Linked DNA regions of Homo sapiens. The protein of the gene in region 2 binds, or shares a complex with, the protein of the main gene of each other region. Each region holds a gene or a part of one and is shown on either strand. Other genes may lie near its edges. The genes, in order: POLR2B and GTF2H5.

Region 1 (12,293 bases), on a different chromosome or scaffold from region 2:
CTCCCAAAGTGCTGGGATTGCAGACATGAGCCATTGCGCCTAGCCTCTACAAAAAAAAAATTTTTTTTTTAAAGGTGTAGTGGCACATGCCTGTAGTTAAAAAAAAGGTTGGAGGACAACCAATAAATTCAAAAAAGGACTTAAGAGACAATATTAATTTAGCTACTTGGGAGGCTAAGGTAGGATTGCTTGTGCCCAGTTCAAGGCTGCAGGGAGCTGTGGGCATGCCACTGCACTCCAGCCTGGGTGACAGAGTGAGACTCTGCCTTTAAAACATGATGATAATATCAAAGGTTAGAAGGACAGAGATGAATGCAACAAGACTGGCCATCAGTCGATAATTGTTGAAATGGGGGTAACAGGCACACAGGCATTCACTATACCACTATCTCCATTTTGGTGTGTTGACATTTTTCATAATATAAGGTTAATTAATAATAATGATGATGATACAGTTCTTACCGAGATCTACCCTCCATGGGCTGTCTATTGAGGATCTGAATAGGTCCCCTAGCACGAGAGTGAATCTTATCATCCACCATATGCTTCAAACGCTGGTAATAAGTGGGGCCAATAAATATTTGTGATGTGATTTTTCGACCAGTGAACCCATTGTACAGGACCTGCAACAAACACAGATTTTGAAGTGTAGACCTAAAAATTAAACAACGTCAAAGAAGATATGTGTATATATTGTGTTACTCCATTTATATAAAAATTAAAGCACAGAACTAATCTATAATGTTAGCAATTAAGAGAGTAATTAGCTTGGGGTGGGAGTGGAAAGGTAGCGACTAAAAAAGGTTCAGTCGCTACCTTCACATTTTTAGATCTTGGTGTTAGTCATGCAGCTGTGTTTACTTTGTGAAAATTCATCAAGCTGTACATTTCTATATGTGCACATATGATACTTCAATAAAAGGTTACATTGTTTCAGAATAAAACTACACACATACAAAAAAAAACAAGTGGCAAATTACTACTATAAGAGCAAATATACCTCATTTCCTCTGAGATGATAGCCATAATCAGATAAAAGATTAGAAATCTTCTGCACGTTAACAGCATCATTAAATGGAGTGGCATCACCAATTTCACCCTTGTTAGCCGATACCTTTTAAAAAAAAAAGTACTCTTTAAAATGTTGCTTCAGTCTGTCTCCCCCTAAAAGTCATATCAATAAAAATGCATTCAAAAAATTTTTAAATACTTTTAAAATTTGAAAGTATTATTTTAAGTATTTTAAAATTCAAAGATTTTGAACTCAAAATCTATGTTATGGAAAGCTGTGATATATAAGGTTCATTTTATAACCTTACACAAAACATTTAGAACAAATAAACTTGCTTAAAAAAGAAAAACTCAATTATAAGTATTCAAATAGAAGTCGATCCATGGGATCAGGTACAAAAAGAGTGAGACTCCTAAGTACTTCAGATGGCTCAAAGGAAAATGACATTTTAATGCCCTAAAACCAAGCCATCCATATGTTAGACTATTACCACTTTACCTTAAAAGAATACTTAAAAATAGAAAACCTCCACCAAAAGATGTATGCAGAGCTGATAATAGAACTATAAAATTATTAAGTTCACATTGAACTCTCCATCAACAAATTAACTGTTCATCTACAGAAAAGAACTAGTCAAAAGGAAAATCACATATGTATTAGTTGAATGTAGTATATCTCACAAAAATTCTGACTTGTCCATAACTTTGCAAATTGCCAAAAAAAATGGCAGAATCATAAGCAATTTGAAAGCAGAAAAGTAAGTCTCACACTAGCTTTTTACAAAGTACCCTGGCTCAAATGTGAGAGCAATCACCTATCAGAGTTTTAGAAGAAGCATCAGCTTAGAATCTATATTTTTGAAGAACATCTCTTACCTTCCCTTGAAGGCATTCAATTAAGTGACCAATAGTCATACGAGAGGGGATGGCATGGGGATTGATGATGATATCAGGGGTGATACCTTCACAGGTGAAAGGCATATCCTACAAAGAAAAATTTTAAAAGGGACTCAAAGATACATATACTAAACTAGAACTGACATTTCAGTTCTCCCAACTGAATTACTGTATGTCCCAAATTCTGTTTAAACATGGTATGTTCATATACTTATTCAACAATAAAATCAAAAAGTTCAACCTGTATCATCTTTGAGCTCTTAAGTTAAAGCAAATTTTGATTAAAAAAAAAATATTTAACAAAACTGGTTTGGGCATGAGGGAGATCAAAGATACCTACCTCTTGTCTATACTGAATACCACAAGTACCCTTTTGACCATGTCGACTAGCAAATTTGTCTCCAATCTGTGGAATCCTAACAGAGCGTACCTAAATTCATATAAAAATAAGTTAGTTAAGTGGATTTGGTTTACTTTCTAAAACTAGCTACATGAACAAAGTTGTACTCACCCTTATTTTACAAAATTTATATCCTTCCTGATTGAGAGTTACCATAACCTGATCCACAATGCCCGTCTCGCTAGTTCTGAGAAAAGTGCTACAGTCTCTCTTGGTATAGCGTCTATTGGTGCTCTCCAATTCATCTTCATTTTCAGGCAAGGTGACTGTTTTGCCTATAATAACATCATCTCCTGATACACGAACCCCTGGAGCTATCAAACCATCATCATCCAGCTTGTCGTAAATGGCATGCCTCATGCCTGTGAGGAAATAGACACGGAATGTCACATAATCCCCAACAAAGATTAAAAACCACATACATGAATCAGTTCCAAGTCAGAGAGAAGGCCACAGGAGTCTCTATACCATGAATCACACCCTTATTCCAAATATTACAAACTATTCTGAACTCTAATACTACAGCCCACACAGAAAACAAAAAAAAAAGTCTATGAAGGAAAAGAACATTGGAATCAGCACTGGGAAAGCAGATTCTTCCATGACAGACATTTATCGAGTGACTTTGGATATGTTTTTTGTCATCTTCTGATTTCTATATTACAAGAGAAAGAATATCTCTGCCATCAGTGGGTACAGGAGAAAAATTTTTTTAAATTAAAAAGAGAGTATCTATGGATGCCCTCTGTACACATCCTCCCACAGAAATTGTGGATTTCATCTTAACTCAATCTTAACTCCACTGGACATCAATTCACTACTACACAGAGCCACCCAATGGAAGGGGAGTAACAGGAAGATGGCAAAGGAAACAAAATACATTTTACTTCATGCAATGCTATTCAGAGTCAACACTGTAGCAGAGATATTGCATTTCCCTGGAACATCCCATCCATCCCACTGCATAAGCAGGTTTTAAGTGTCTGTCAAAATAAATAACTAGAAAGTAAGTTTGAGTTTTCTAGAAGAAACAACAAATGCTAGGTATCCTCTTCTCACTGGTTATTTTTTAAATGTTTACAAACAATGTGGCTGAACAAATATTATGATCACACCATAATTTAGAAAGGAAGGGGGACAGGTGTGAAGTGTGTCCCCAGAAATTGCATGACCTCTCTGATTTCCTAAACTCCCTCCTCAATGCAGGACCTACCAGGAAGGAAGGTCTATAGCAAGCTCACTCCTAGGTGCAAAGACTTTTATCAAATACACATGTTTTCTTAGATGTGAACTCTAAGAATAACATGAAAACACACTTTCATTGCACAAAAAAAGGGAGAGGAGGACAGGGGCAGGCACAGGGTGACACAACCCATCAAAATCACTTAGGAAAACCACAGTAAGTTAACTTTGGATTCCATCATTTAAATGTTAGTGTCACTTACCCTGGCATGTTTCACGTGTAGGCTTCTCAAAAACTTCTTCTTGATCAAATCCTTTTTTAGACTCCTGTTCTTTGTATGAGCGATAGAAAACAGACCTAAAAACACATGGTTCTAAAGGTAAAGTCTATTTTCTTTTAACAAAAGGGCTGAGACTATACCAACAATTTCTCATTTACTTGAAATTTGGGAGACAATTTAAACTACGAATCTGGGACAAGAGTAACTGCATTAAGGATCTGAGTTAAACTCTAAATGTTATCACATGAGTTATACATATGTAGCATCTGACCCATAACCTTAACCACCTAGTATTATATGTCAAAATGGAAGAGACCCAGGGGTCAATGAATCCAACCTCCGACACATTTAAGAATCCATTACATAATAACCCTGAAAGATGGTCACCTAGGTTCTACTCAAACACTTCCAGTGAGAAGTTTTAACATTGGCTGAGCATGGTGGCTCACGCCTGTAATCCTAGCACTTTGGGAAGCCGAGATGGGTGGATCAGCTGAAGTCAGGAGTTTGAGACAGCCTGGCCAACATGGTGAAACCCCGTCTCTACTAAAAATACCAAACAACAACAAAAAAAAACTCTGGCATGGTGGTGCGTGCCTGTAATCCCAGGTACTTGGGAAGCTGAGGTAGGAGAATCTCTTGAAACCTGGGAGGCAGAGATTGCAAGTGAGCCAAGATTGCACCACTGCATTCCAGTCTTGGCAACAGAAAGACTCTGTCTCAAAAAAAAAAAAAAAAAAAAAGTTTTTACATTAAGCCATAGTATCTGTCCTCTGAGTTCTAGTGCTACCCTTTGAAACTACACAGACAAAGGAAAATCCATCCCCTCTACTAAATTCCCAGTTTTTAAAACAATCTTTATATGCCTTGAATTTGAGGTCTGTTTGTCGACAATCAAACTGAAACATAATGGAAAAAAAGAGCGAAAAGAAAACACACTATAATTTTAACAATAGTTATCTATGGATTCTAAGTTATTTTTATTTCTTCTTTGGACATTTCTATATTATCTAAATGCAACTGTATATTTCCTTACCAAAAGAAAGGCTCAAAATACTAGCATTTGAAAATCCTGAGAGATACAAGTAGTATCTTCAGCTGTTTGTGACCATCAACCAGTCCTTCCACTTTCTGGAGTGCGGCGTAGTTAAACTGTATTTTAAGAACTTTTTTTGCATAAAAAATTAGTGTTTCCACTGTATCTGTGTTTTGACAAATTTACAAAATACTAACCTGAAGAAGCCGCGGTCTACAGCTGAACGATTCATGATAACAGAGTCTTCCTGATTATATCCAGTGTATGATGCAATGGCCACAATTGAGTTGATGCCTGCAGTGAATTTAAGAGCATACATTAAAACATCACCTGGAAAACAGAAAAACTGCCCTTTCTTTAAATCAACTTTAATTACATCATATTTGCCATAAATGCTTGGGTGTTTGTTATCATGGTAACTGCCAAAGTCTATTCCTCCTGGAATAGCAATCTGTGAGGCAACTACTCTGATGGCTAAATATCTCCCACAAGCAAATCCTAGGACTAGTCACTCCCAATGTATCCATTCTTATAGTAAGTGATTACACATGAGTCACCTCCTACTTAGGAAGTGCCTCCCCAAACCAAGTTTCCTGATCCTCACAGCAACTCTGTGCCATAAACAAGATAAGCATTATTATTCTCATGAATCAGAGGAGTGAATTAATAATCTACCCATGATCCCAAAATTAATAAGCAATAGACTCAAGCCCCAGCTTTTAGGTTTGAAACTGATACTACCCCATTCCCCTCTCCTTCTGCCACCAAGAAAATATCATATCTTTCCCACCACAATGAAATTCTTAGTTGCTGCTGCCAAAACACTTTGTTTGATGAGCCCATAAAATAACTTGATATTTAGGTCGGGCATGGTGGCTCACGCCTGTAATCCCAGCACTTTGGGAGGCCGAGGCAGGTGGATCACAAGGTCAAGCGATTGAGACCATCCTGGCCAACATGGTGAAACCCCACCTCTAATAAAAATACAAAAACTAGCTGGGCGTGGTGGCACGCGCCTGCAGTCCCAGCTACTCAGGAGGCTGAGACAGAAGAATCGCTTAAACCCAGGAGGCAGAGGTTGCAGCGAACCAAGATCGTGCCACTGCACTCCAGCCTGGTGGCAGAGCGAGAATCCGTCTCAAAAAAATAAAATAAAATAACTTGATATTCATAACCTGGATATCATCATGAGGAAACAATAGTCAAACCTAAATTGAGACACAATGCAAAAATAACTTTCCTGAACTCTTCACAAATGTCAAGGTCATGAAAGACAAGGAAAGACTGAGAAACTGTTCTAGATTAAGGAAACTAAAGAACCATGCAATTAAATGCAATGCACAATCCTGGATTAGCTCCTAGACCCATTAAAGACATCGTTAGGTTTGAATACAATAACAGTTGCTTTCTCAAAAAAAAAAAAAAAAAAAAAAGACATCATTAGGACAACTGGCAAAATTTGAATTGAGGACTGCTGACTATATGGATATCAATGTTACCCTGATTTTGATGGCTACACTGCAGAGAATGTCCTTGTTCTTAGGAAACACATACTGAAGAATTAAAGAATGATATGGCTTCATGCCTGCAACTTACTCTCATGTGGTTCAGGAGGAGAAATAAAAAGGGAGAGAATAATAGAGCAAATGTGGTAAAATGTTAAAAGTTTTTTTAAAAATGGTACGATGGGCTGGCCGTAGTGGCTTACATCTGTAATCCCGGCACTTTGGGAGGCTGAGGTGGGAAAATCACTTGAGCCCAGAAGTTTGAGACCAGCCTGGGCAACAAAGTAGACCCTATCTCTACAAAAAAAAAAAGAATTTCAAAATAAAGATGCCATGATGAAGTCAGGAATAACAGAACTGCAGTCCCTGCCAGCCATGACTCTCCACTTCACACCAGTACCAAAGGAACATTTGCTTTCAAACCTAGTCCTTCTGTATATTTATTTTCCTCTCTAGCCATAAAGAAACTGTATTATCTAAATGTTGGAGAAAACACAGCACTGCAAGCACAGCCCAAAGATACATGCATACTGTGTAGACAACCTAACAGATTTTGCTTTTCTAGACAAGAGGAACCCCTTGTGGAGGATTTTGAAAATAAGTAATTTTAACCTATGAGAATTTGCTATCAAAATGGTAGAGCCCCATTACAATACACTAAAGATAAACTTTACTAACAAATAACAAATGTTACCCACATTCAAAGCCAAAAGTCTGTTAATACAAAAGATAACAGTGCCAAAGAACTCTACTGTCTCCTTTAATAGTCAACACTCATACCCTTCAGATTTCTCTTCACCATTTTACCCACCATCCAGTCTCCCTGAGAATCTCCTACAAACCTGGAATTCCCCTCCTTATCAGCTACTTCTCAAATCTTCTCTCTTAATTTCTCTTCCTGGTGTCTAAAATTGTCTGCCTCTGGCCTTTTTCTCATTCTAAATTCTCCTTAGGCAATTTCATAGTAATCTATAATTATCATTAATAAATTAAAAATTTTACATCTCTAGACTTGACCGTCTTTCAAATCATGTTTGCAACTCACTGTTGGAAGTTCACGTCTTAGTGTTCTGACACTAAGACACTAAATCAACATATCCAAAACAAAATTATTGTCTTACCTCTAAAACCTCTTTCCCCTTCTAACATGTTCCCAATCTTATTTTTCCCCCAACCTATTCAAAGCACCTCTCTTTAATCACCCAAGCCACAAACACCAACAGTATTTCCAATTCCTCTCTTCATTGCTCCACACTCAACCAGTCATCAAGTCCTATCAAGTGTATTTCAAAAGGTATCTTACCCATCATTCTTTTTCATTTCTTTAGGACCTTGCCATTTCACATTTATACTACTGCAAAAACCCCTAAATTAGCTCCCTGTTAATACAGTACCTGATTGTAATCTACTCTTTATGCCGCTGTCAGAATGGTATTCCTAAAACAAATTTCTAATTGTATTACTTCCCTGATCCAAAAGGTTGGATGGGTCTCCATTTTCAAAATAAAATTCAACCTGTTCAAGCTCTCTCCACACTGAGACCAAGCTTTCACTTCCATATATTTACACTCCACTCCCACTAAGCTGACATGACTAACTGTACCGTACATTTTGCATGTCTTCGTCCATCTGGGCCCTTGCTTAAACCACCTCTCAAATGCAAATACCCCTTCATCAATTTTGCTCCAATCTAAAATGCCACCTTCTCCATGAAACTGGATCTAGACTTCCAACAGGAATTAATTGCTTCCATCAGTCTGTGCTTCCAAAGGACTTTGTACCTCCACCAAAACACTTTCCACATACCTACCTTTTTATTATGTTCATGTTTCCCACCATATTATAAATTCCGTGAGAACAGGCACTATGTCATATTTATTTTTTAATCCTCCCAAGCACCCAGAAAAGTGCCTTAAGCACAGAAGGATCTTAAATAACGTAGAGCAAAACTGACCATACCTGCTGGCAGCTCTCTAAATCGTAGATATTCCATAGACCGTGTAGTCACAAGTGGCTTTTGAGGATAATAGAGAACATGGGCCAATGTGTCCATGCGAACATGGAAGTTGGTGATGTAAACTCCCATAGCCTGCTTACCCATAGCAGACTGGTATGTGTTTCTAGGGGACTAAACGTAAAAATGAAAAGCAGAAACAACAAAAAGTTACTATCACTAATGGAAAAGACTCTGACAATAAATCAAAAGAAATATGATTGGTAAAACTCCTGATTTTTTTCAAAAACAGTAAGTAATAACCATTTGGAATAATCAATTACGGCTCTTAACCATGAAACACAACAGCAATTATATCAAATACTGATTCCGTAGGAGTTAATAGCCTTTTCATTAAAAGGCTTTTTCCCTCCAGATAAGACTACAGAGTTACTTTCAATTTTTATTACTTCTCCCAATTCCTCACACCAGAAGACAAAAAGTGATACCAACCTGGTTATGATCAGGAAAGGGAATAATAGATGCACAGACACCAAGGATCATTGAGGGATGAATCTCACAGTGTGTATATGTGGAACAATAAGCTACTTCTTTCTCCTGTAAATCATCTGGAGTCATTGCAAGCATCACTGTTTCTTCTTCCAGGGTATCAATATACTCCACTACCCCACTGGCCACAAGATCCTGCCAACTAAAAAAGAATTCACTCAATTTTCTACTTCCTCAAGTATTTTAACTAACTATTCCTCCTACTTAAAAGTATTCCTATATTTATATTTAAATAAGTTTAATATTATATATTAAATATACATATATATTTATATATATATATAGTTTAATATTATATATAACTGACCAACATAGTTACATGATTGTTGACAAGTGAAATAGGTAAGCTGCTGGAGAATAAGCACTGGAAGAATACACACCTAACTGTTACCAGTATATACTTGTGAAGAAGAGAGTATACATTGGAGGGCAATTTTTTAAATTTATCATACATATTGTTTGAATGATTTTTATATTAGTATACATAACTATACATTCATATTGCTAAAAAATAAATATTTAAAGCAGCTTCATCTTTTTACTAAATTTCTTATTATATTATTCATATTATTGTCATATTATATGTAATAATTTAGATTATATAGGTTATTTCGCATTATTACTATTAATAGATTTTAATATATCACAAAAACTTTTTTTTTTTGAGACAGGGTCTTGCTCTGTTGCCCAGGCTGGTACAATCAAAACTCACTACTCCTGGGCTCAAGTGATCCTCCTGCCTCCTGAGTAGCTGGACTGCAGGTGCATTCCACCACACTTGACTAATTTTTTTATTTTTTGGAGAGATGGGAGTCTCAATATGTTGCCCAGACTGGTCTTGAACTCCTGGCCTCAAGCAATCCTCCCACCTTGACCTCCCAAAGTGCTGAGATTACAGGCATGAGCCACTACACCTGGGCAATCAAAAGACTTTTAAGCTTAAATAAAATCCTATTAATTATCTTGCTTCATAATAGAAGTTAAGAAAAACAAATGTGACTCCTAAGGATACAGAGTTTTTTCGGGGCAATGAAAGTATTCTAAAATTAAGATAGTGGTGATGGTTGCACAACATTGCAAACACACTAAAAACCACTAATTGTATACTTTTTAAAAATCGTTAACTTGCCGGACGCAGTGGCTCATGCCTGTAATCCCAGCACTCTGGGAGGCTGAAGCAGGCGGATCACCTGAGACCAGGAGTTCAAGACCAGCCTGGCCAACATGGCGAAACCCTGTCTCTACCAAAAATACAAAAATTAGCTGGGTGTGGTGGCACACACCTGTAATCCCAGCTACTACGGTGGTTGAGGCAGGAGAATTGCTTGAACCCAGGAGGTGGAGGTTAGTGAGCCAAGATCGCATCACTGCACTCCAGCATGGGCGACACAGCTGAGGCTGTGTCAAAAAAATAAATAAATAAATAAAATTAAATAAAAATATAAAAAATAAAAAAAGGTTAATTTTACAGTATGTAAATTCTATCTCAATTTTTAATACACACATTTTTCTCACTGCATGTTTTTACCTATAGTTGTTATATTCTCTCTCTTTCAATTGGTCAATATGCCTCTTCTTCAAAAGTAGCTTTTGTTTTTCCACAATCAGAAGTGGTCTACAAATACGGCCTGCATCCGTATAGATCCGAATCTCCCTCTCTCGAATATCTCTGATCATAGAAACCTACATATAAAAAGAAAAAACAGTTCCACAAATTTTTATTTTCTCTTTATTATTAGGCTTAGTTAAAAATACAATACAAATCCTACTAAATTTCTGGAGCAACCAATTTATCAAGTAAAATGTGCAAATCTTAGTTTACCATTGTTTAACATATTAAAAACTTAGGTATAATTTAAAATTTTATGAATGAAAAATCTAACCTTGGCAATTATAAACCTGTACAATACTATCTGGTAATAATGTCATGCAAGTTAACGTAGGAAATATTTTTTCAATACCACAAACACTAGTATGTGACAATTTCTTATTTTGGTTCTTTGCTGATGACATATATCTCACCCTGTAACCTTTCAAAAACCAGCCCTATATCACTTTGCTTTGACCATACTTTCCCAGTCATTAGCCTGACTTCTCACACCCACCTATCAGACGTAAGCCTGACTGCTCACACCCACCCTCAGACAAATGGCTTATAGTCTAGCTATCTAATACAGGGGATAGCCACATGTGACTGAGCACTTGAAACGTGGCGATTCTGAACTGAGATGTGTTGTAAGTATAAACTACATAATGCATTTGAAAGACAGCACCAAACCAGAAAAAAAAGAACGTAAAATAGTTTACTAATAATTTTTATATTAATAGAATGTTGATGTAATACTTTGGGATGTATCAAGTCAAATAAAATATGCTATTAAAGACCAGGCACGGTGGCTCAAGCCTGTAATCCCGCACTCTGGGAGGCCGAGGTGGATGGATCACGAGGTCAGGAGATCGAGACCATCCTAGCTAACACGGTGAAACCCCATCTCTACTAAAAATACAAAAAAAATTAGCCAGGTGTGGTGGCAGGTGCCTGTAGTCCCGGCTACTCAGGAGGCTAAGGCAGGAGAATGGCATGAACCCGGGAGGCAGAGCTTGCAGTGAGCCTAGATCACGCCACTGCACTCCAGCCTGGGCAACAGAGCAAGACTCCGTCTCAAAAAAAAAAAAAAAAGAAAAAAAAAGACCAGGCACGGTGGCTCATGCCAGTAATCCCAACACTTTGTGAGGCAAAGGTGGGCAGATCACCTTGAGGTCAGGAGTTTGAGACCAGCCTGGCAAACATGGTGAAACCCTGTCTCTACTAAAAATACAAAAATTATCTGGGCGTGGTGGTGTGCGCCTGTAATCCCAGCCCCTCAGGAGGCTGAGGTAAAGAATCACTTGAACCCGGGAGGCAGAGGTTGCAGTGAGCCAAGATCATGCCACTGCACTCCAGCCTGGGCAATAGAGTAAGACCCTGTCTCAAAAAACAAAACAACAAAACATCAAGTTTTTCTCTAAAATGAGTCAAAAGACAAGAAAGAGAAAAATGTTCCAAGTTCCTAGTCTACTGCCTGTCCTTAGAAAGTAATTTAAGGAGGAACACTGTGAGCAAAAATATCATGAGTAGTATTCTAAAGTCCAAGAAAGATTCTTCTTTCAAATGCACTGCCTTAAGTTCTTAGAAAACTAACATTCCTAACAGAATACAGCTCTATGGGTCTTTTTCTCTTTTTTTTTTTTTTTTAATATAAACATGGTCTTGATATGTTGCCCAGGGTGGTTGGTCCTAAATTCCTAGCTTTAAGCGATCCTCCCACCTCAGCCAGCCCAAGTTATGCCATTACAGGCATGAGCCACCACACCCGACCACTCTACCTCACCCACCAGCTGTTTTTGTAAACACAGTTTTATCAGTTTATGTATTATCTACGATTGGTTCTCATTACAACAGCAGAGCTAAATACATAATACACACTGTGTGATGAAC
Region 2 (12,293 bases):
CTGGGATTACAGCATGAGCCACCATGCCCACCCTAAAACCAAACTTGATCTTACCTGCAGATCTTACACATTCCTCTTTATCTCAGTAAAAATCTCCTCCAGTCTTCCATTTGCTCAGATGAAAAATCTTGGAGTTTTCTTGTTCCTCTTTCTCAAAGCTCATGTCCAGTATTAGCAAATTATGTTGGTTTTATGTCAGTATATATCTAGAATTCAACCACTTCTCATCACCTCCACTATTACCACCTACATCAAAATCATCATCTCTTGCCTGGATGTCACCTCATGGGTCCCCTGCTTCCATCCTTGCCTCTGCCACTCCCAGTCTTTTCTCAACCCAGCAGCCAATATGATCCTTACAGTTAAAATTTAAGTCAGTTTGTAAGTTAAATCATGTCACTTGGTAAAACCCAAAGTCCCCCAAATCAGTTCTGAGGCTCATACTCATCTAGGGATAGAAGTAAATCCCGTGTTAGCATCAGTTAATACCTGTGCTTGTACTTAAATCTTATTTTTCTTGTTTTCAGTAAATTATAGTGACATCTTTTGGATTAAATTGTTACCTTTACAATTGATATTGACATTTCTCAAGACACCAAAAGATTATATGAGATTTTTTTCTCAAGAATTGCAAAAATCTGTGGTGCAGCTTGACATTTTTATATTCATTTTTTGCTAAACACATTGTGTATTAGATCTAAAGAGTGTCCTTTGTCATGATTCAAGGTTTTTATGAAAGAGACATTTTGCTGTAAATCTGTACTGCCCGAGAAGAAATTGTATCCCTCTTTTCCCTTATGACTATCCTATTCTTTCCAAACCAAAAACCACAAGTTAATAAAATTGAATTTGGACCTCTTTCCTTGAATGCCTATTACAAGCCAAGCACTGTCCTTGACATTATCTCCTTTAATTTCCGTAAACAATTCTGTTATGTAGCCTCACTTTTGAGGTTGGGAACAGAGGCTCTGGGAGATTAAGTACCTATTCTATTCAAGGTCACACAAGTAAGTGATGAAGCTGGGGTTGAATCCAGGTATGACTCTTGATATACACCCTGCCTGACCAAAGTGACTGTTTAACTGGTTTTGTAAGTTAATTTGTCACTGGTAAAACATTGAACACCTACTGGTTCCTTAGATGTAATGGGCATAGACAAGGAAGAAATTCAGTGTTTAAATCAGTTAAGAAAGCTGTGATTCTAGGCCCTACTAACTACAAAGCTTTCAATATTCTTTTATTTTTTCCACTTAGTGACAAATTATTCTTTAAAAATCTTGCCATTGGCCTCTGCCTCTTCAACTTACACTAATAGTTCTTTTTTTTTTTTTTGAGACAGAGTCTCGCTCTGTCGCCCAGGCTGGAGTGCAGTGGCACGATCTCCGCTCACTGCAAGCTCTGCCTCCCAGGTTCACACCATTCTCCTGCCTCAGCCTCCCAAGTAGCTGGGACTACAGGCACCCGCCACCACACCCGGCTAATTTTTTGTATTTTTAGTAGAGACGGGGTTTCACCGTGTTAGCCAGGATGGTCTCGATCTCCTGACCTGGTGATCCACCCACCTCGGCCTCCCAAAGTGCTGGGATCACAGGTGTGAGCCATCGCACCCGGCCAACTTACACTAATAGTTCTAAAATGAAGCCATGTCTATAAATTGTTAACACTTGAGGCAGAGAGGAAGTGAGGGATTGAGTAACAGAACTTTAAAAATCATTCTAAAAATTCTACATGTTCACATTTAATTGCTCAAGTCTCTGTGATGTGATTTGACAACAAGCTGTCTTACAATCATGTGTTTGTCTTTACAGTGATCCTGCCATGAAGCAGTTTCTGCTGTACTTGGATGAGTCCAATGCCCTGGGGAAGAAGTTCATCATTCAAGACATTGATGACACTCACGTCTTTGTAATAGCAGAATTGGTTAATGTCCTCCAGGAGCGAGTGGGTGAATTAATGGACCAAAATGCTTTTTCCCTTACCCAGAAATGAAAATACTCAATATGGACCATTTAGGAATTATAAGCAGCAACTGTGAAAGACTTGCCACTCAATATCTTAGGTGACTGATTAGACATAGAGGGTTGTTTTAGGAGCATGCCACGGGAAAGACTGAGGGATCATGATCATTTGTTCAGAAAAAAAGCCCCTGAACTGATTTTGTTACCATAGAATTTAAAAAAAAAAAAAGCTTTAACAGTTGGCTGTAATTTGGCTTTTATTATCCTTTATTAAAATACAAATGTCAATGCTTTTCCTGCCTTTTTAATACCATGTCAGTGTAACATAGGTATTTATTTTGCTCATCCCTGTGATCTGTGCATTTTTGCTGCGTGGATGTGATTGTTTGGTTTCAGTTAGAAACGTCATAGATTTGCTGTTTGAATATGCCAAGGTGGGGACTTAGACATTATGTACGTCTCACAAATCCTACCTGCATACCAGTCAGCTCTATTGAGGAAGACAATGTAAAACTAATGTAAACTACAGTTTGCATTTCCCTGAAAACAGAATATTGTTTTTAAGAGGGTTAGAAACAACCAGTGGGAAAGGCACATGCTGCTTTGTTTAGTTTTTCCTTGTTCAAACTTTGTTGGTCACATTTTCCCATCTGTATTCTTTTTTATTAAGAAAACAGCTTAGGGAGGCTGAGGTGGGAGGATTGCTTGAGCCCAGGAGTCCGAGGTTGCTACAAAAACACCATTGCACTCTGGCCTGGACAACAGAGAGACCCTGCCTCAAAAAAAAAAAAAAAAAAAAAAAAAATTCTACTTGTACCTTATTCCCTATGAGAATACTTATCAAACTTATCTAAAAAAGAAAAATAGGAACAGCCATATGCAAAGTCAGCCCAACAGGAAAGGACATATTAGATTAAAATACATTGCGGCCTGGGCTTAGTGGCTCACACCTGTAATCCCAGCACTTTGGGAGGCTGAGGCAGGCAGATCGCTTGAGTCCAGGAGTCGAAACCCTGTCTCTACAAAAAAAAAAATACAAAAATCTGCCTGTTGTCCCAGCCACTGGGGAGGCTGAGGTAGGAGGTCAAGGCTGCAGTGAACCTTGATCATTGCTACTGCCACTCCAGCCTAGGTGACAGAGTGAGACCCTGTCTCCAAAAAAAAAAGTGTATATGTATGTGTGTATATATAGCAAGAGAGAGTTCTGTGATCAATTGAAGGCAAAAACAGTAACACTGAGAGGGGCTTTGCTTCCCTTCCTGAAGATCATGTCATTGGGGTGGGTTCCTGTAAAGGGAATTTTCCAAGAGAAAAGAGAATTTTCATGACCTGTAGACTCTTACAAATCCATTTTACCTGCTTCCTTATGGTATGTTTATTCAAAGCACCTGTGTACCATATTTATTCACTTACACAGCATTACTGAATCTGGAAATTTTCAGTTAGGTATATTTTACATAATTCCCACCCATATAACTCAGTCCATACAGTTCACAGTTTTCATTCCCTCATAGCAATGCAAAAAATTTTGATGAGTTACTACTACTAAAACTAGTTAAGTAAAAGATGATTCTTAAGAATTTCCAGGCTGGGCACGGTGGCTCACGCCTGTAATCCCAGCACTTTGGGAGGCTGAGGCAGGCAGCTCACGAGGTCAGGAGATCGAGACCATCCTGCTCGGTGAAACCCCATCTCTATTAAAAATACAAAAAATTAGCCGGGCCTGGTGGCGGGTGCCTGTAGTCCCATCTACTCAGGAGGCTGAGGCAGGAGAATGGCGTGAACCCGGGAGGCGGAGCTTGCAGTAAGCTGAGATTGTGCCACTGCACTCCAGCCTGGGCGACAGAGGGAGACTCCATCTCAAAAAAAAAAAAAAAAAAAAATGAATTTCCAGCTATACCAAAATGTTACTAATGTATCTTATATTTCAGGCATGTCTAAATCAACTTTTAGTATGCCTCAGGCATTTGTCACCAACCTTTTATATTAACATGAAACTTAGAAAATTTTTGATAGAATCCCAGAGTTCAAAAGGTATTAGGATTTTTGCCACTGAAGTAAAAAAGAGAAAAAAAGATATTTATGAGAAAACTATTGAACAGTGACTGTGTTGTACCCGAGCAAGTTAGAGGAACGCCACACTTTGAGACGAATTTAAAAGTCCTTTATTTAGCTGGCAGCCAAGAGGTGGCTCACACTTGGAATTCTCTCAGCTCCGAGGAAGGGGCTTGATTTTCCTTTATACTTTGGTTTAGGAAGGGGACGGGAGCTCAGTTGCAACAATTCTACAGAAGTAAAAACATGCAAAAAATTAAAAAGACAAATGGTTACAGAGAAACAAACAGTTCCAGGTGCAGGGGCTCTAAATCTATCATAAGATGTCAGGTGTGGGGGCTCTGCCAGACACAAACTCAAGGCTTTATGGTGTATCTCTTGAGCGAAATCCTGGGAACTTCGTACATTGCTTGCTTCAGTACCTTATGAGTTAATTGGACTCTTTGATATGTTGAGAGTCAGCTTACACAAGTTAACTCCTTGAGGAAAGGGGGTGGGTAAGGAGTCCTTGATGTCCTGTAAATGAAGGAACCAAATGGAGTTCCTCCGGCTTTCTCAGCTAAGGGAGAGCTTATTCACATGGAAACAAGGCTAGGTGATTAAGGGAGAAAGGGACAGTCTGAAAACAAGGTTAGTAAAAACAAGGTTAGGTATTAGAACTGCAAAGAGTATTAAGTGAAATAAGTGAAGGAAAATATGAGCTCTTATTTTTAAAAAGTTGTGTTGGGGCAAATGTTAAATATCTTTCTTTCTCTGGACATTATTAAGAAAGATAGAGTGATGTGAATGATAGGAAGCCCACCTGTAACCACTTAGCTGACATGTCCAACTATGGGTGAACAGGAAATAAGCGACATTCACCTAGGCTGTTTATTGGAATCTGACTAGCATTATTTGATTTGGCATACTTTACATGTCCAGAACAAGGCTGTTGGTGCTTGGCACCAAGAAATTTATGACTTTTTTTTTTTTTTTAAATAAAGTCCTAAAGGTAGCATTAAAATGACTTAACTGGAGGCAGGAGGATCACTGAAGCCCAGGAGTTTGAAGCTGCAGTAAGCTAAGAAGGTGCCACTGCACTGCAGCCTGGATGACAGAGTGAAACTTTGTCTCTTAATAGAACTATGGACTGAAGTTGTGATATTGAGTGTTATATTTCTCAATAAAGGTTTTTTCTTTTAATACTGTATTAGGTCAAATTCAAGGTCTTAATTCCTTGAATTCCAATTTCCTTGTGAAATTTCATGTGATTAATTTAAAATTCCAGGGATCCTATCTAACATCACAGTTGATGGATATAACAATGTATTTTGAGAAATCAGTTTTGGTGAACAGTAACAGCATTACTGATAATAGGCAACAAACACTACTGCATTTTATTTCTGATAGGCATTATAGGTGGTAATCCAAATGATTAATGATTTTATTGCTCTTTACATTTTCTAGAACAGGTGATTTGACATAATTGTACTTTTTTCTGAGAAGTTGGTAGTGTACTTACTACTCTATTTTGCAGTTATACAATAAATCTTACTTAGCTGACAACTAGGAGTAAAAGCTCTGACAAAAAGCCTCTGCTGTAACTAAAATACTGAGATCATTCTATCTTAACAAACTTAACAGATGGGGAAGGGGTATATTTTAAAGATGGAGAAATGATGCAGTTTGCAAATATAGTCAATAAATATTCTCAAGTGTACGTAGCTCAATTTCATTTGCAGCAAAGATAACACTGAAATGTCTATGGATGAGATTATTGGATAAACTTTTTTAAAAACACTGTTCTCAAGATAGGCAAGTGATTAAGAGCACTGACTGGGCCGGGCGCGGTGGCTCACGTCTATAATCCTAGCACTTTGGGAGGCCGAGGCGGGCAAATCACAAGGTCAGGAGATCAAAACAATCCTGGCTAACAAGGTGAAACCCCGTCTCTACTAAAAATACAAAAAAATTAGCTGGGCATGGTGGTGGACGCCTGTAGTCCCAGCTACTCGGGAGGCTGAGGCAGGAGAATGGTGTAATCCCGGGAGGTGGAGGTTGCAGTGAGCCGAGATCGTGCCACTGCACTCCAGCCGGGGTGACAGAGCGAGACTCCCACCCATCTCAAAAAAAATAAAAATGAAAAGCACTGATTGAATCTAGATTCCTTGAGTCCAAGTGTCAGATCTCTGCTTACTAGCTCTGGGATCTCAGATGTTTCGTTGATTGGATTTCTTTGTGCTCATTTGTGTAAACAGGAATGCCCGTCTTTAAAGACTATTAAAATGAATGTGAGTTAACACACAAGAGGTCTTCAAAAAGTTGATGGAAAATGCATATTATGAAAAAAATTATGCATAGATTTCAAAAATCTTTGCAGCAAAATAAACTCATCATTATAACATGTCTGAACAGGATCTAGTTTGAGGCACTAAGAAGGATATCAGTTTAAATAGAGCCCCTGTCAGAACAATATGAATTCTGCTAAAACTGAAGCAAGAACAAACATCAAATTTATGGCAAAGCTTAGGTGGAAGAATGGTGCAATCATTGATGCTTTGCAAAAAGTTTATGGGAACAACGCCCCAAGGAAATCAGTTTACAAATGGATAATTCATTTTAAGAAAGGACAAGACAATGTTGAAGATGAAACCTACAGCAGCAGACCATGCCACTTCGTGAGGAAAAAATTATCTCATTCATGCCCTACTTGAAGAGGACCAATGATTAACAGCAGAAACGATAGCCAACACAATATGCTCCTCAGTTGGTTCAGCTTTTATAAATCTGACTGAAAAATTAAAGTTGAGCACACTTTCCACTCAATGGATACCAAAACCATCCAGCCCAGGTCAGCTGCAGACAAAAGCAGAGCTTTCGATGGAAATGTCAAACAAGTGAGATCAAGATCCTGAAGCATTTCTTCAAAGAATTGTAGCAAAAACAGACTTTTAAAACCTTGAATTCAGAGACAGGTATAAAGACTGCTTGGTGATTTTGAAAGGACTGAGATCATTTTGGGAGAGATCATCTTCAGAAAATGACCAGATACAACAAGAATTTAACATGGCAGCCAAACCAACCCACTAACACACATTTAAATAAGATACCCAAATGCAGAAAGAAAAGCACAGTCGTCATGCAAAATAGTCACTACTCATTCAAAAACTCTATAGTTGTCTGAGTCGTTATGCTCAAAATATCCAATAATATTTCTTTTGCTGAGCTGTAAAATAATTATTTTGCAAACATAAAAGAAAAAAAAAAGAATTGTAACAGAAACATGGCTTTACCAGTATGACCCTCAAGACAAAATACAAAACAATGGCTACCAAGAGGTGGAAGTGGCCCAGTCACAGCAAGAGCAGATTGATCAAGAGCAAAGGTCATGGTAACAGTTTTTTGGATCCTCAAGTCATTTTGCTTGTTGACTTTTTGGAGGGCCAAATAAAGATATCATCTGCTTATTATGAGAGTGTTTCGAGAGAAATCCAAAGCTTAGCAGAGAAACGCCTGGGAAAGCTTCACCAGAGGGTCTTCCACCGTGACAGTTCCCCTGCGCATTCCTCTCATAAAGCAAGGGCAGTTTAGCTAGAATTTCTATCAAAAATCATTAGGTATCCATCTCCCAGTCCTGATTTGGCTCCTTCTGACTTCTTTTTGTTTCCCAATCTTAAAAAAATCCCTGAAGGGCACCTGTTTTTCTTCAGCTAATAAAAAAGACATGGTTAATTTCCCAGGACCCTCAGTTCTTTAGGGATAGACTGAATGGCTGGTATCATTGCTTGAACTTAATGGAGCTTATGTTGAGAAATAAAAGAAATTATATTTTATTTTTATCTTTTAATTCTATTTTTCCATGAACTTTTTGAAGTCCCCTCAGATATAAAGCAGAACGTTATGAAACTGAGTTACCTTGAATCTAGAAGAGTACAATGATAAAGGGGAAGATAGAAACACACACATATGCGTTGTTTTCCCCACTTTCACAATGCCGTGCAGAAACTAACAGATGAAGGAGGAGAATCCCTAAAAACAGAGCATTGGGTAGCTAGTCCACCAGCGGTCTGATGCTTTCATTGATCTCAAAACTGTCTCTGAGTAACTCTACCAGGAAAGTTGTCTGGAGGGTTAACATTTCTGAAACCATTTTTATCTTTGCCTTCATTCTTGAATGATAATTAGTCTCGAATGTTTGGATCACAATCCATTGAAAGACTAGGCTATTTTTTCACTGTCCTCAGACATTTACTGAGTCCAGTTTGGACTTTATTTTATTTTATTTTTTTTGAAACAAGATCTCGCTCTGTTGCTCAGGCTGAAGTGCAATAGCGCAAACTCGGCTCACTGCAACCTCCCAGGTTCAAGCAATTCTCGTGCCTCAGCCATCCCTATAGGCATGCGCCACCACACTTTGCTAATCTTGTATTTTTGGTAGAGACGGGGTTTGCACCATGTTGGCCAGGCTGGTCTCGAACTCCCAACCTCAAGTAATCTGGCCTCCCAAAGTGGTGGGATTACAGGCGTGAGCCAGCGCGCCCGGCCTGGACTTAACTTCTGAAGAACTCTTTCTGTTTAGATTGCAGGAGCGTTCTCTCGGCTCATCTCTTGTTTTCTCACCCAGCTGTTCTTCTTCTAGTTGGCCATCATTCTTCATCCCTCCCTCCCTTTCCTGCAGTTAATTATTTCTTTGAAATTTTAAAACTTCTTAATGTTGCCTGGAATACATGAGTCTTCCTGATCTCTTCAAACGGGGTTTGTTTTGTTTTGCTTTGGGGAGAATTCTTTTGACGTTTTTGAATAAGCTGTTAACAACTTTAATACCTGTCTTGTTTGTTTTCTTCAGAAATTTGTTAATTCTCCATGATTAGCACCTTTATGTGGTTATCTCATTATTTTCATTCCTTTTTAATTCTCTGTTTTAGGAATGCTTGTCAAATTCGTCACTAAAATTGATTTACTTTCTTGAAAACCTGTTTCTGCTGCTCCCAACATGATTTAATCTTGGCTACTGAGCTTTTGGTTACGTTGCACTCCCTTTAAAATTACTCCGTTTAAGTACAGTGTTCACTCTTTGGGTAATGTGTACAATAGAAGCCCAATCCCCACCTATACCCAATATATCCATGGGACAAGCATGTACATGCACCCCCTGAGTCTAAAATAAAAATTTTAAAAAAACTATATCTGTCACAGCCTGTTTTTATTTTTAATTGAAGTTCTCTTTTTATGAGCGATACACATTCATTGCAGGCAGATTGAAAAAGGGAAACAAAAGAAAATACAACTCAACCATAATCCCACCACTCAGGAGTAGCCACAATTAAAATGTTAATAACAGGCTGGGTATGATGGTTCACACCTGTAATCCTAGCACTTTGGGAGGCCAAGGCAGGAGGATCCCTTGAGCTTAGGAGTTCCAGAACAGCTTGGGTAACATAGACCTTGTCTCCACTAAAAAAATCAAAAAAATTAGGCCAGGCGTGGTCTCACACCTGTAATCCCAGAACTTTGGGAGCCCAAGGCGGGTGGATACTTGAGGCCAGAAGTTCGAAACCCACCTGGCCAACATTGCGAAACCCCATCTCTACTAAAAATACGAAAGTTAGCCAGATGTGGTGGTGTGCACACACAGCTACTGGGGAAGCTGAGGCATGAGAATCGCTTGAACCCAAGAGGCAGAGGTTGCAGTGGGCTAAGATGGCACCACTGCACTCCACCCTGGATGACAGAGCATGACTCTGCCTCAAAAAAAAAAAAAAAAAAAAAAGACCGGCATGATGATGCATGCCTGTAGTCCCAGCTACTGGGGCTGGGGGAGGTGCTGAGGCAGGAAGATCGCTTGAGCACGAGGTCAAGGCTGTAGTGAGCCGTGATTGCACCACTGCACTTCAGCCTGGGCAACAAAGTGAGACCCTGTGTCAAAAAACATTTTTTTTTTAGACGGAGTCTTGCTGTCTCCCAGGCTGGAGTGCAGTGGCACGATCTTGGCTCACTGCAAGCTCCGCCTCCCGGGTTCACGCCATTCTCCTGCCTCAGCCTCCCAAGTAGCTGGGACTACAGGCACCCACCACCACACCCGGCTAGTTTTTTGTATTTTTAGTAGAGACGGGGTTTCACCGTGTTAGCCAGGATGGTCTCGATCTCCTTACCTCATGATCCACCCGCCTTGGCCTCCCAAAGTGCTGGGATTACAGGCGTGAGGCACCACGCCCAGCCTCAAAAAAAATTTTAAAAGCTAATGACAATCTTCACTTTTTTAAAGAATATAAAAAGAGTTTTGGCTGGGCGTGGTGGCTCACGCCTGTAATCCCAGCACTTTGGGAGGCCAAGGCAGGCAGATCACGAGGTCAGGAGATCGAGACCATCTTGGCTGACACGGCGAAACCCCGTCTCTACTAAAAATACAAAAAACTAGCCGGGCGTGGTGGCGGGCACCTGTAGTCTCAGCTACTTGGGAGGCTGAGATAGGAGAATGGCATGAACCCGGGAGGCAGAGCTTGCAGTATGCAGAGATCACGCCACTGCACTCCAACCCGGGCAACAGAGCAAGACTGTCTCAAAAAAAAAAAAAAAAAAAAAGAGTTCTACTCCCTATCCCAATGAGATCACACTGCTTTGACACTTGCCTTTTCCCTTAATTTTTCATGCTCCTTTATGAAAAACCTGAAGCAGGATTTCTATTTCAGAGGAAAGTTTTTTTTTCTGATTTTAGATGGGGAGCTTTCTAAAAATGTTGATGCCTGGCCTCAGCCCCCAGTCATTCAAATTTAGTTGTTCTGGGATATGACCCAAGCGTCAGCATCTTTAAAAGGCCTGCCTGGTGCTTCTGCTGTGCATTCAGAGCTGAGAACTCCTGGGCCGGTGTGTGCACAATGGAGACTCTGGGTAGGAGGTTTTGTTTTTGGGTTTCGTTCGGTTTCCAGTAGGCTAATCTACCAGCACAGCTGTTTCCTTTTACTGCCAAGGAAATGCTGAGTCTGCCCAGCAAGGAACCAGCTTTTGTTAAAATTCACTAATTAGATAACTGATTCCCCAAGTCGTTGCAGGATCTTATTTATTGACAGTAGCTAGCTTGAGTTGGATCCTTTGGTTAGACGGAGGAAAGTCATTGCAGCACTCATAATTGGTTAAGTTTTTTTTTTTTAAACATAAATTCACTAAGATATTTTAGTCTTGTGTTTATTTACTGTTTACCATGCTTTTGTGTGTGTGTGTGTGTGTGTGTGTGTGTGTGTGTGTGTGTGTGTGAAACAAACTCTTAAGCTATGTCAGCATATCCTTTCTCAGGCAGAGTCTTTCGGAGGTAGATGTCTAATTCAGTATTAACTGGTTTACCTAGCTCTCATCACTCCTCCGGCTCCCTCAAGCCCTCAGTAACATCTGCACTTACATAAGGTATTTGGATGTGTGACTTATATTTTATTAAATTAAGGACAGAAGTTGAGTTTGACACACAAAAACAGGGAGAGCAGAGGCAGGTCCGTGAGAGATAAACAAACACAACTAATTTAGTGACATGAAGAATTCACAGAAATCTTGGAAGGTTTTGAACTTCTGTGGACATGGAATGGAAGGGTTAGTCTTATGTCAGTTTTATCAAACACATTAAATCTGCCGGGCGCGGTGGCTCATGCCTATAATCCCAGCACTTCGGGGGGCCAAGGCGGGTGGATCACGAGGTCAGGGGTTCGAGACCAGCCTGACCAACATGGTGAAACCCCGTCTCTACTAAAAATACAAAAAAATTAGCTGGGCGTGGTAGCGGGCACCTGTAATCCCAGCTACTCAGGAGGCTGAGGCAGGAGAATTGCTTGAACCCGGGAGGCGGAGGTTGCAGTGAGCCGAGATCGTGCCACTGCACTCCAGCCTGGGCAACAGAGAAAAAAACAAACAAAAAAAAACACATTAAATCAGGTGCTATTTGCAGCTGTAATTTGTAACTATTGCACTTTGGATATGGTAGTAGAAGCTACCATGTCTAAAAGTAAATGTTCTATGAGTGTTTAAACCTCTAACTATGACTATACTGGGCAATTGGTCCAAAAGCCACTCTGAAAATTTTCCAGCATAAAGTTGTTATGGTCTTGACTGAGGCAGATATGCCTTTGAGGGCTTCTTAGTCTATATCAGTGCTTTTCAACTTTAAAGTACTTACAAATCATCTGGAAGTCCTTAGAATGCAGATTCCGATTAAGTGGGTGTGGGCTGGGGCCTGAGATTCTGCATTTCTAGAAGGCTTCCAGGGGATGGCAGTGCTGCTGTCTGGCAGGTCACATTTTGAGTAGCTAAGCTCAAACA

The links.
Region 1: GTF2H5 (region 2) and POLR2B share a complex: the UniProt entries of both Homo sapiens proteins name them as parts of the TBP-based Pol II pre-initiation complex.

Annotation. Positions count from the first base shown.
Region 1 is NC_000004.12:57,013,707-57,025,999, reverse strand, and holds part of POLR2B (DNA-directed RNA polymerase II subunit RPB2), read right to left. Parts: intron 10,499-12,293; coding exon 10,344-10,498; intron 8,958-10,343; coding exon 8,759-8,957; intron 8,441-8,758; coding exon 8,272-8,440; intron 5,102-8,271; coding exon 5,005-5,101; intron 3,849-5,004; coding exon 3,754-3,848; intron 2,671-3,753; coding exon 2,420-2,670; intron 2,339-2,419; coding exon 2,249-2,338; intron 1,996-2,248; coding exon 1,888-1,995; intron 1,115-1,887; coding exon 1,001-1,114; intron 624-1,000; coding exon 463-623; intron 1-462. UniProt on the Homo sapiens protein: Catalytic core component of RNA polymerase II (Pol II), a DNA-dependent RNA polymerase which synthesizes mRNA precursors and many functional non-coding RNAs using the four ribonucleoside triphosphates as substrates.
Region 2 is NC_000006.12:158,190,169-158,202,461, forward strand, and holds the end of GTF2H5 (general transcription factor IIH subunit 5), read left to right. Parts: intron 1-1,808; coding exon 1,809-1,989; 3' UTR 1,990-9,176; downstream 9,177-12,293. UniProt on the Homo sapiens protein: Component of the general transcription and DNA repair factor IIH (TFIIH) core complex, which is involved in general and transcription-coupled nucleotide excision repair (NER) of damaged DNA and, when complexed to CAK, in RNA transcription by RNA polymerase II.